Linked DNA regions of Homo sapiens: region 2 is linked to region 1. The links come from fine-mapping of genetic effects on gene expression. Tissue or cell type: prefrontal cortex. Region 1 holds a variant in brackets; the other region holds the start of a gene. All regions are shown on one strand. Distances are between the middles of the regions.

Evidence for each region. PIP is the estimated chance that this variant, and not a neighbour inherited with it, causes the effect.
Region 2: FAM162B starts here. The variant in region 1 is the best candidate, but not a certain one, in a credible set for the expression of FAM162B in prefrontal cortex (CommonMind, PIP 0.87).

The regions. Positions count from the first base shown.
Region 1 is chr6:116,740,196-116,745,582 of GRCh38, forward strand. It overlaps KPNA5 (karyopherin subunit alpha 5), which reads left to right. Exons shown (of 14, transcript NM_001366306.2): 14 at 1-1,672. Among named protein-coding and RNA genes, the nearest start is that of FAM162B, 23 kb to the right of the region's middle. The variant A/G (reference allele first, on the strand shown) is at 2,147.
Region 2 is chr6:116,762,486-116,767,872 of GRCh38, forward strand. It overlaps FAM162B (family with sequence similarity 162 member B), which reads right to left and starts at 3,234. Exons shown (of 4, transcript NM_001085480.3): 1 at 2,920-3,234; 2 at 2,662-2,770. The coding sequence starts at 3,091. It overlaps LOC105377963 (a long non-coding RNA gene), which reads left to right and starts at 3,883. Exons shown (of 3, transcript XR_942910.3): 1 at 3,883-4,054; 2 at 4,158-4,236; 3 at 4,581-5,387. RefSeq lists an enhancer at 2,255-2,769.

The DNA.
Region 1 (5,387 bases):
CACTTCTCAAAAGAAGACATTTATGCAGCCAAAAAACACATGAAAAAATGCTCACCATCACTGGCCATCAGACAAATGCAAATCAAAACCACAATGAGATACCATCTCACACCAGTCAGAATGGCAATCATTAAAAAGTCAGGAAACAACAGGTGCTGGAGAGGATGTGGAGAAATAGGAACACTTTTACACTGTTGGTGGGACTGTAAACTAGTTCAAGCATTGTGGAAGTCAGTTTGGCGATTCCTCAGTGATCTAGAACTAGAAATACCATTTGACCCAGCCATCCCATTACTGGGTATATACCCAAAGGAATATAAATCATGCTGCTATAAAGACACATGCACACATATGTTTATTGCAGCACTATTCACGATAGCAAAGACTTGGAATCAACCCAAATGTCCAACAATGATAGACTGGATTAAGAAAATGTGGCACATATACACCATGGAATACTATGCAGCCATAAAAAATGATGAGTTCATGTCCTTTGTAGGGACATGGATGAAATTGGAAATCATCCTTCTCAGTAAGCTATCGCAAGAACAAAAAACCAAATGCCGCATCTTCTCACTCATAGGTGGGAATTGAACAATGAGAACACATGGACACAGGAAGGGGAACATCACACTCTGGGGACTGTTGTGGGGTTGGGGGAGGGGGGAGGGATAGCTTTAGGAGATATACCTAATGCTAAATGACGAGTTAATGGGTGCAGCACACCAACATGGCACATGTATACATATGTAACTAACCTGCACATTGTGCACATGTACCCTGAAACTTAAAGTATAATAAAAAAAAAAGAAATGTACTTTTAAATTTCAGACCTTAAAAATATGCCACTAACTTCTAAGTTGTGATGTGATTACATGAGTTTGAAATTCGTTGATACTTGCTTTATGATCTGATATGTGTTGGTTTTAGTGAAATGGCCCATGTGTGTAAGAAAAGAATGTGTTTTGTTAATTGATTCATGTCTTTTACATACTAGTCTGCTTAATTCATCAGTTTCTAACTCGCCAGTTTCTAAGAGAGGTGTGTTAAAATCTCCCAAGATGATTGGTGGATTTTGAATTTTCCATATAGTTCTGACGATTTTTTTGTGTTTTATATGTTTTTTACATTATTTTGTGCATAGAAATTTAGAATTACATCTTTTTTTTTAAGGTTCAGATGAGAATTTGTACATTTATGTGCTAAAAGTACAGAACAATAGTTGACATTTTCAGAGTACTTGTTAAGTGAATTTTAACAAAATAGTTGAAACTTATTTGAAAATATTTTCCCTTTGGTCTTTGTGGTAGAAATGACAGACTTTTTCATTGAATGATGAGGACACAGCAGCCATATTATGCCAAGAGGAAAAATATCATGATCATATTGAAAGATCAAGCATGAGCTTCCATGGTGAAGTCTTCTGTACCAATGCACCAGAGAATGCCTACCATCCAAAAAAGCAGTCAGCTGATGGAAAAGAAGATTATTAAACCTTTGTTCTGGGATTTACTGTTAAAAAACAAACAAAAAACAACAAAAAAGCGGTGACAGGAAACAGTTAAGGAAATGATTTAACTGAAGGGAAGCAAGATTTTTTTAAAGCATTGTTCTTAATCCCCATGACTGTCCTTCAGTCACAATTCCAGAATAAAAGAATCTACTTTGTGTATTAATGTTTTATGCTTTTTATGAAACAATCAGGTCTTTTATTTTCCCCCTTCTTGAACCACAGGGGTAACTATCTTTTCACCCAATCCAAGTGCTGGTCATAAATACACAAAAAACTTGTGTTTATCATGCAAACCACTAGCACCAAGAAATTTTATTTGTTGCAATTTGATGTCAAATAACATTACTGGGTAAATAACTTTTTATATACACATACTAAAACACAAATGCAGATTTATGGGTCAGATGACAGTTATTATTTTTCCTGTGCATGTGGTAATTCATTAACATCGCCTCAGAAATATATTAGAATACACATGTGTATATAGAATATACATTCGTACCTACATAAACATGTGATATGTATAGTTTTTAACAAATACACTGGCCATTACCCATTACACTTGAAAATACATGTATGAACTACCTCATGAAATGTAAACAGGAGTATAAAGAACCACAAGTTTCTACCGAT[A/G]ATAGACATCTAAAAGTCTTGACTATGGAGAGAGAGTTCTTTTTTACATAAACATATTTAACCCAAAGTAGAAGTCATTTTTGGAAATCCCTCTATTAGATAACACAATTCTCCTTCATTTGATACTGATTTCTGTTGTACTAACCACAGCCTATTTTTTATATACTCCTAACAGAATAAGACACACAAAAATAAGAGTTAAATATTGGTGTGTTTTAAAACTCTCACATCTTTGAAAGCACTACTTGAACCTACCTACTTTATTTTATTTCTGACTGTGCCCTAAGACACCATGAAGAGAAGACGCCAATTTAAAAAGTTCAACAAATAGGAAAATCCTATTGGTATAAAAATTTAAAATATTGGCTTTCTAGCTCAGTAATTGTCACAGCTTACTGTATTCAAGTGAACATCTATACATCTATTCCTGCTTGCATCTTAGAGTGGGATTTAAAATTTTTCAAAGGATAATCCTTCAATATTGTATTTTGAAGCACGTACATTAAGGTAAATTTCTTTTAAAGCTATCACACTTTCTGTGTGAAAGTTGAAGACAACTTATATGAATAATATTCTGTTATGTAAGGAAGGGGTATTCCAGTTGTACCCGTAAAACTGACAAATCTGTCCTAGTGTTGGGGATTTGCCACTAAGTTTTTTGTTGGGATAGAAATTATACTTTAAAAGGGGGAAAATCCTTTTTTTTTTTTTAAATGAACAAGCACCCCTTTTTATTGTTCTCTCTAGAGTCTATGTTTTGAAAGATGTCAAACTCCACTAATTGATATTTAATTCCAGTTTTAAATAATCAGCTGTACAAATGCGTTTTTAAAGTATAATAAGCAACATTTCAAAAACTAAAAAGATTTTAATCTTATTTAATCACGATGATATTGTAGTTAGCTCAGTGACTATAGATTCAGAAATACTAGTTTAACATGGTAATTGTTTTAAATTTTTTTTTGCTTTTCCATTTGTTTAGACTTTTTTTCTTTCATGAATGTATTTTTTATTTTAAATTGAGAAATAATGGTATATATTTATGGGGTATATTGTGTTTTTTAAATATATTTGCATCATGACATGATAAAAATCAAGCTAATTAACATATCTGTCACCTTACTTACCCTTTTTTATGATGAGAACATTTAAAATCTACTCTTTTTTTTTCCCTCCTCAAGATAGAGTCTCACTCCGTCACCCAGGCTGGAGTGCAGTGGCATGATCTTGGCTCACTGCAACCTCCATCACCCAGGTTCAAGCAATTCTCATGCCTCAGCCTCCCAAGTAGCTGGGATGACAGGCGTGCACCACCATGCCCGGCTAGTTTTTTGTATTTTTAGTAGAGATGGGGTTTCGCCATATTGCCCAGGCTGGTCTAGAACTCCTGGCCTCAAGCAATCCGCCCACCCCACCTCAGTCTCCCAAAGTGTTGGGATTACAGGCGTGAGCCACCGTGCCTGGCTAAAATCTCTTTTAGCAATTTTGAAATACACAATACATGGTTACTAACTATAGTCAGCATGCTGTGCAATGGATCTTTAAAACCTATTCCATATGTTACTGACAACTTTGTACCCTTTGACTGTCTCCCCATTCCTCATCCCCTCCATATCCCCCAATCTGGTAACCTTCATTCTACTCTCTACTTCTATGAGTTTGAGTTGTTTAGATTCTACATATAAGTGAGATCACACAGTTTTTGTCTTTTTGTTCCTGGCTTATTTCACCCAGCATAATGTCCTCCAGATTCAGTCATGTTGTAAATGGCAGAATTTCCTCTTTTTGTTGGATGAATAGTATTCCATTTTACCACATTTTCTTTATTCATTCCTCCTTGATGGGCAATTAGGTTGCTTTCATATCATGGCCATTGTGAATAATGCTGCAATGAACATGCAAGTGCAGATATCACTTTGACATACTGATTTCAAGTCCTTAGGATATATATCCAGAAGTGGGATTGCTGGATTATATGGTAATTCTATTTGAAATTTTTTGACGAATGTCTGTACTTTTTTCTATAATAGCTATATTTCCATTCTACCAACAGTGTACAAAAGGTGCCTTTTCTCCACATCCTCACCAATACTTATCTTTCATCTTTTTGATAATAGCCATTCTGACAGATGTGAGGTAATGTATCATTATAATTTTAATTTGTATTTCCCTATGATCAATGATTTTAAGCATTTTTTTCATATATCTATTGGCCATTTGTATGTCTTCTTTGGATAAGTGTCTATCAGGTCCTTTGTCCATTTTTTAATTGGGTAATTTATTTTTCCTGCTATTGAGTTGAGTTTCTAATATATTTTGGATAGAAACTCTGTATCACATATATAATTTGCACATATTTTCTCCTAATCCATGGGCTTTCTCTTCACTCTATTGATTGTTTTCTTTGCTATGATAGTTTTTTTTTTAGTTTGAAGTGAAATGGCCTCATTACCTGGGGTGGCATCTGAAGTTCTTGGTCTCATGGCCGAGTAAATCAAGGACGCACACACGCCAAGGGTGAGGTCAGAGCAGAAGCAGACGTTTAATAGACAAAAGAGAACAACTGTTTGTTGCAGAGAGCGGTCACAAAAGGGTTGCCATTCAGCAGTGAAATGCAAGGGTTTTATAAGTGAGTTAGTGGGGAGGCAGTATCTTATCTCATAGGGCACAAAAAACTGGTTAGGACCAGGTATGCTATCTGCATAGAATGTGAATCTCTGGCATCCCCCACCCCAACCTTTTATTATGCTGGGGGTCCTTTGCCTGAGTGACTCCACATTGCTTTCCTACTGTGCACGTGCTAAAAAAAAGGGGGAGGTGGAGCCCCCATGGTGGACATGCGTGGCCCCAGGTACCCCTTTCTACCGGTGCAGTTGCAGACATTCCCCGCATGCAAGCTTCCAGCTTCCTTATCACTGTTTGCAGCCCGATCTTCCAGGCTGCTCTTTGTTAGTAAAAAAGTGATTTCTTTGGCTGCTTTTTGTTAGAAGGGAAGTTCTGCCAAGAACTTTTTGCCTTAACTATCTGCCTAGCTAGTCTCTTTTTATCTCCTCTCTCATAAGTAATCACATTTGTCTTTTTTCTTTTGTTGCTTGTGCTTCGGAGTTCTTATCCAAAAAATCATTGCCCATACCAATGTCATAGAGCTTTTCTCTGTTTTATTCTACTAGTTTTACAGTCTCAGGTCTTATGTTTAAGTTTTTAATCCATTTCAAGTTGATTTTTCTACATAGTGTGAGAT
Region 2 (5,387 bases), 22 kb after region 1:
ACAGTTTTTTTTTTAAAACTCATTTTTATCATTTTGTTTTTTTCACTCGCCTCCCAATCTCTTGTCCCTTCACATGCTACCCCCAAAAGACACACTATTATCCAGCTTGTGAGAATGTCTGTTAGAAAAATGTTTCCTTCATGGCTTTTGCAATAATTTTTTGTTAAACGTGATCAAAATCACAATAATTTGCCGAGGAAAAAGATAAAAGAGACCTTCATTTTAATGTTATTATTATACTGAAATTTGATATACTTAAATTCTAAATATTCATTCATAGTTTTATGCATGTTGTCCAAGATTTTAATAATACTACTTACAAAGTAGTAATACAAAAGGCATCATGCCTGTGGGACTTTTACGTTGAAATAAACTTTAACAATTTTCAATGATATGAAGTGGCAGATTATAAATATGCATATTTAAAGAATTTCATTCATTATAATATATTCATTGGTATTCTTTCCTCTCTATGTGCAGTTTAAATAGAGTGTAGTTACATTGAAAAAAAAAATCCAGAAAGACAAAGTTGCATTTTCTCTTAAAAACAGAAAACTTTTTAAATTTTCCACTGGTTAAAAGACTACAGAAAACTCCTATCTAGCCTATTTTCTTTAGATTTTAGGCAGAGTGATGTAAGTTTTAAGATGTTAGTTGCAAACAGGTCCAATTAGTGAGTATGGAGAAATTATTAGATTATATTTGCTGCTAACTTTTGTTCCAGATGGAACCTAGAAGCTCTGATCTTTTTTACCCAGCCATTTGGCTTTAATCTATTATAACAAATTAGTTTAGCACTGAGAAAAACAAGACAAAGTACAGTTATTATTAAACACAATTAGTGTATGATACAAAAATTATAGGTCACTTGTTCATTATATGTCCATTAAAAGGTAAAAGCTGTTTACATTGTAAGTGTGACACTTAGCTTAACAGGAATATCTCTCTTAAATAGTAATGCTTAAAAAGTTATAGAAAAATAATAAAATGAAAAATACTCAAATACTTTTATGTTTCCAATGCAAAACTGCAATGCTTTTTATAGGCATCCTGTTCTTAGTGAAATGCTCCTGTTTATAATACATCTTTTGACTATGATCTTGGGGAAATTACATTATTTCTGTAAAATGAGTCTGTTCACAAATACAGCTATGTTAAATGCAATACTGGGCATAGGTTTTCTTGACAAACAATATGCAATAATGTTGGTTCTTTACACTCTTGATTACTTGGTTAGGCCACTAGAAATAAAAATTCAAACCAATTGAGGGTGGTGGCTTACTTATTTTAATTTTTTTTTTTTTTTTTACTTCTTTGGCATTTATAGTATTAAATTTTCAGGCATCAATTAAAATTTGATAACCAGAGCTTATGATGATAAAGACTTTTCTGAGGCTAACTTTTGCTTTCAGCTAAGTCTGTAGTTTGGAGTCTATAGATCTCGAGGAAAAATAATCTTAGAAAGTGCCTCTGTAGTTGAATAAATACTGAAAACGGATTCAAATGCAGTGTTATTTCAAATTCCATGTCCATTTCTCATTTGGTGACTTGCTCCAATAAAAGAACGAAAATGCTTCAGAATTCATTACTGAGTGTACATTTCCTGCCATGTTCTCCCACCCCACCCCCTAGCTATCTGAGATGCTTTGGTAACTGATAAACTGCAATTGTTTATAAACAATAACATGGCAGGCACCATGTGAAAAACAGAAATATAGGCCCAGTTTCCATTATCCATTCTAATAGGCATTCATTACATTGTACAAATATACAGAATATCTAAAATCCTTCTTTCACGTTATGGTTTTAGTCTTTTATTTTTAAAAGATAAACTTAAAAAGTAGTAGATTGATTTTATTTTTAGTTTCCGTCCCTCTCTTTTTTACCCAATCCCTTGTAAAAATGCTGCGAAGGTTTTTGGGCTTGGCAGAAACAGAAACTTTGGAAAGATTTTTTTACAGGTTACATTTACTTATTATTAGCATTTATTTTACAGGTTACATTACCTTAGAGGGGGAGTTATTAGTTTGAGTTTTATCATCTGTCTTGGTGGGTTTAGCATGCTGAAGAGGCCCACAGTGCTGACACTCCCGCGCGTCCCACCCTGAGTAAACCCGGAGCCTAGAGGGCTGCAGAAACACGTCCGCCAGGCGTCTCCTGCCCCAGAAGAGGAGGCCGCATGGATGCGTCTTTTTTCCAGAGACCCCCCCGCCACAGCCGCCCCGCAAGCCAAGATCAGAGAACCCCTTCCTTGGGTGGGGTAGGGGGACGCCCCCGGCCAAAGCCTGGATTGCGGTCTGGCGTCCCGGCAGCCATCCGGATGCTCGCGAGGACCGTGGCCTGTTTGGCACAAGAGCCCCACTGCCTCCCAGTTCGGAGCTTGCTGGGGACCGGCAATCTGGGCGGTGCTGGAAGTGTCCCCTGAACCTCTCAGTTTTCACCCACCTTCTGCAATCTCCCTGTAAGCTTAATTGACTCTTGACACACCGCACTGGAGGCGGGGTGTGTGTGTGGGTAAACTCCGTGTGTGGTGGGTGATATTGCGAAGTGTTGGCACTGCGGCCGCTTTCGCTCCTAGGTGGCCGCGGTCGGAAGGTGGGTCACCCCGCACCCTTGCGGCCGGGGACCGACTCTCCTTCGCGCGGCGGTCGCCACACTTACGGGATCCGAGGCGGGATCTCCTCCATCGATTTGAAACGCCCTGTCCACAGCAGGATTTTCTTGTCGAACTGCGAAGGCCTGCGCTGCGTGGGGACTCGGTGAATCTCCCCTGCAGCGAAAGCAACCCAGATGGACGCGGGAACTGACGCACCGGCACAGAGGATCAGCGCGCCCTCAAGCCGACTCCCGGGCCGGCCCCTCGCTGCCCTCCCGCAACCTCCTCCCTCCCAGGACCTCCCCGTCGGAGCCCTGGCTCACCGTGACCTTGGGGCCCAGAATTGCTGGGGGCCCCGCCGCTGGAGTAGCAGGGGAGACCCCGGGGCGGAAGAGCCGGTGCGGGCCGTCGCGTGGCCTCGAGAGGCGCCCCGGGGCCGCAGCGGACTGTTAGCCCGCGGCCAAGGCGCAGTAGGCTCCCGACCGCCCTGAGCATGCTGCCCGCTTGTCCCGCGCCGCACCCGCACCTCCGGACCCAGCCACAGGCGTTGTCCCCGCAGCTCTCCTCGTCCCGCCCCGGCCTGCCGCGCGCTGGAGAGCCTGGGACGTGCAGCTGGAACCCCTGGCGCTCGCACACTCAGCTCGCTATCCCCGTCTCCGCCCCCGGCCAGCGACCCGGGATCAGGGCGTCAAGCCCCGAGGGGCTGGTTCCTCAGGAAGCAGCCTGCCTCTGTTTGAAACAGGCTCACCACCGCCTGAGGCAGTGCGTGTAGCTCCTTTTAAATTCTTTGTATTGAGTAGAAATGTATTCCCGCCAGGCTTTTAGCCTTTGATTCCATCGTTTGTTCCCCAGGAGAATAAATCTAAATCCTCTCTTCCAGGAAGAGACAACAATCCTTCAAGTGCAGGAAACTGAAGACATTTCCCAATTAAGTGTTAAGGGCACTCCACTAACTTCTGGATGAGATTTCTTGAAGTTAGCTCCTCACCTCATCGTCTCCCACCCCCATACCTTTTCTCTTTCCTACGGAAAACAATCTCAATTCCTCCAAGTGCCTTTCTCTATCTTTTCTTCTTCTTTTCAGAGACAGTCTCTGGCTCTGTCACTCAGGCTAAAGTGCAGTGGCATGCTGATAGCTCATTGTAACGTCGAACTCCTGGACTCAAGTAGTCCTCCCACCTTAGCCTCCAGAGTAGCTAGGGCTTTGGTCGTGCGCCAGCACGCTCCGCTATTTTTTTTTTTTTTAAGAGATGGGATCTCACTATGTTGTCCAGACTGGTCTCCAACTCCTGGCCTCAAGCTATCAGCTGGGCTCTGCCTCCCAAAGCACTGGGATTACACGTATGAGCCGCCATGCCAGCTTCCTACCTCTTCATCTCTTAGCCCACAAACTCTCCACACTCCCTTCAAAATGTGCCTTTCTTCTGTCACCTTCCACCATCTCCTCTATGCTAAAAGGTAAAAGAATCTACTATTTTCAGGCATTAAATGGTAACAGGGATTCAGATTCAATGATTGGAGAGAAGGGTTGTACAAGCAATTTACTTATCTTGTTCCACAGACAACAGACCTCCTGCCAAGTCAAAGTGCTCATCAGCCCAGCACCAGGCCGAGCTCACCCTCCTCTGCTATTACTGCCTGTGAGTTTCCCTCCTTATCTAGACACTGCTTTGCACTTGTTGGATTTCTAGATATTTTGCTTCCTAACTAGACTGTCAGGCTCTTGAAAGCTATAACTTTTCTGTAACTGCCAGCTCAGTTTTTTTTTCTTTTTACATAACCGTGTTAAACAAAAAAAGAGGGGTTAATAGCTCTGTGAAGACATACATTTAGAGGAGCGCTTGCAGAAGGAACATGGGCTTTGCCTTCACACCTAGGTTTAAATCCCGGATTTGTGACTTAAAAGTTGCACAATCATGAGCAGTAAATCATTTAAGTTATAAGTCTTGGTCTCTTTTGTAAAACCAGAATTCCTATCTTTTAGGTTTATTCATGCAATGACTACCAGTAACCAGCTACGTGCCAGCTACCTCTCAGAGCTGGGGATGGAGCAGTGATGACATCAGGTGAAGATGAAGAAAAATAAAACAAGGTGAAAAAGAATAAGCAGGAGTAGAGTGAGAAGATATTTAGAAACCATGGTTAGCAATGTCCTTCTAAATGTGCCTGGTGTGTAATAATACTTCAGAAGATAATGATTTCTTTCCCCGTCACATTCTTTAGTCCCAAAACACAAGGGCATTTTAATTTATGAAATCTCCTGTGGGGAACTAGGAGCTCCCTGACCTTCAGGAGTTGTGATTATATTCCCAAGATATAGCTGAAAAATTGGCACTTAGTAGATATTTAATAAGTATTTGTTAAATAAATGAATAGATGAATACAAGTCTTCGAAAACAGAATAGTCTGCACCTAGGCTAGTTTACGAAAAGACTGAGATGCTTGAGGACATTCTATGTCCTTTTAAACTTCATACTTTCAGTGTCTATCATGTTGCTTACCACATAGCGGTCTCCAAATAAGTGTTTATAAAACTCAACTGAATGAATTCCTGCCTGAGAAAGTATGTTGCCATAGCTAATATTGCTCCAGCATTATGGTACTTGAAGATTCTTGCATTATTTAAATGTGGTTTTTTCTATTAGTATTTTATTTGTCTTCACATCACTGAGAGGGAGTATCCATAGAGCTAGAGAAAGCCATCACTGAGAAACAACCAATCGTTAATAATTCACTAAGAAATATTAAACAAGGGAAATAAGTTTATTTCCCTGGAGGGAATCAAATGTCA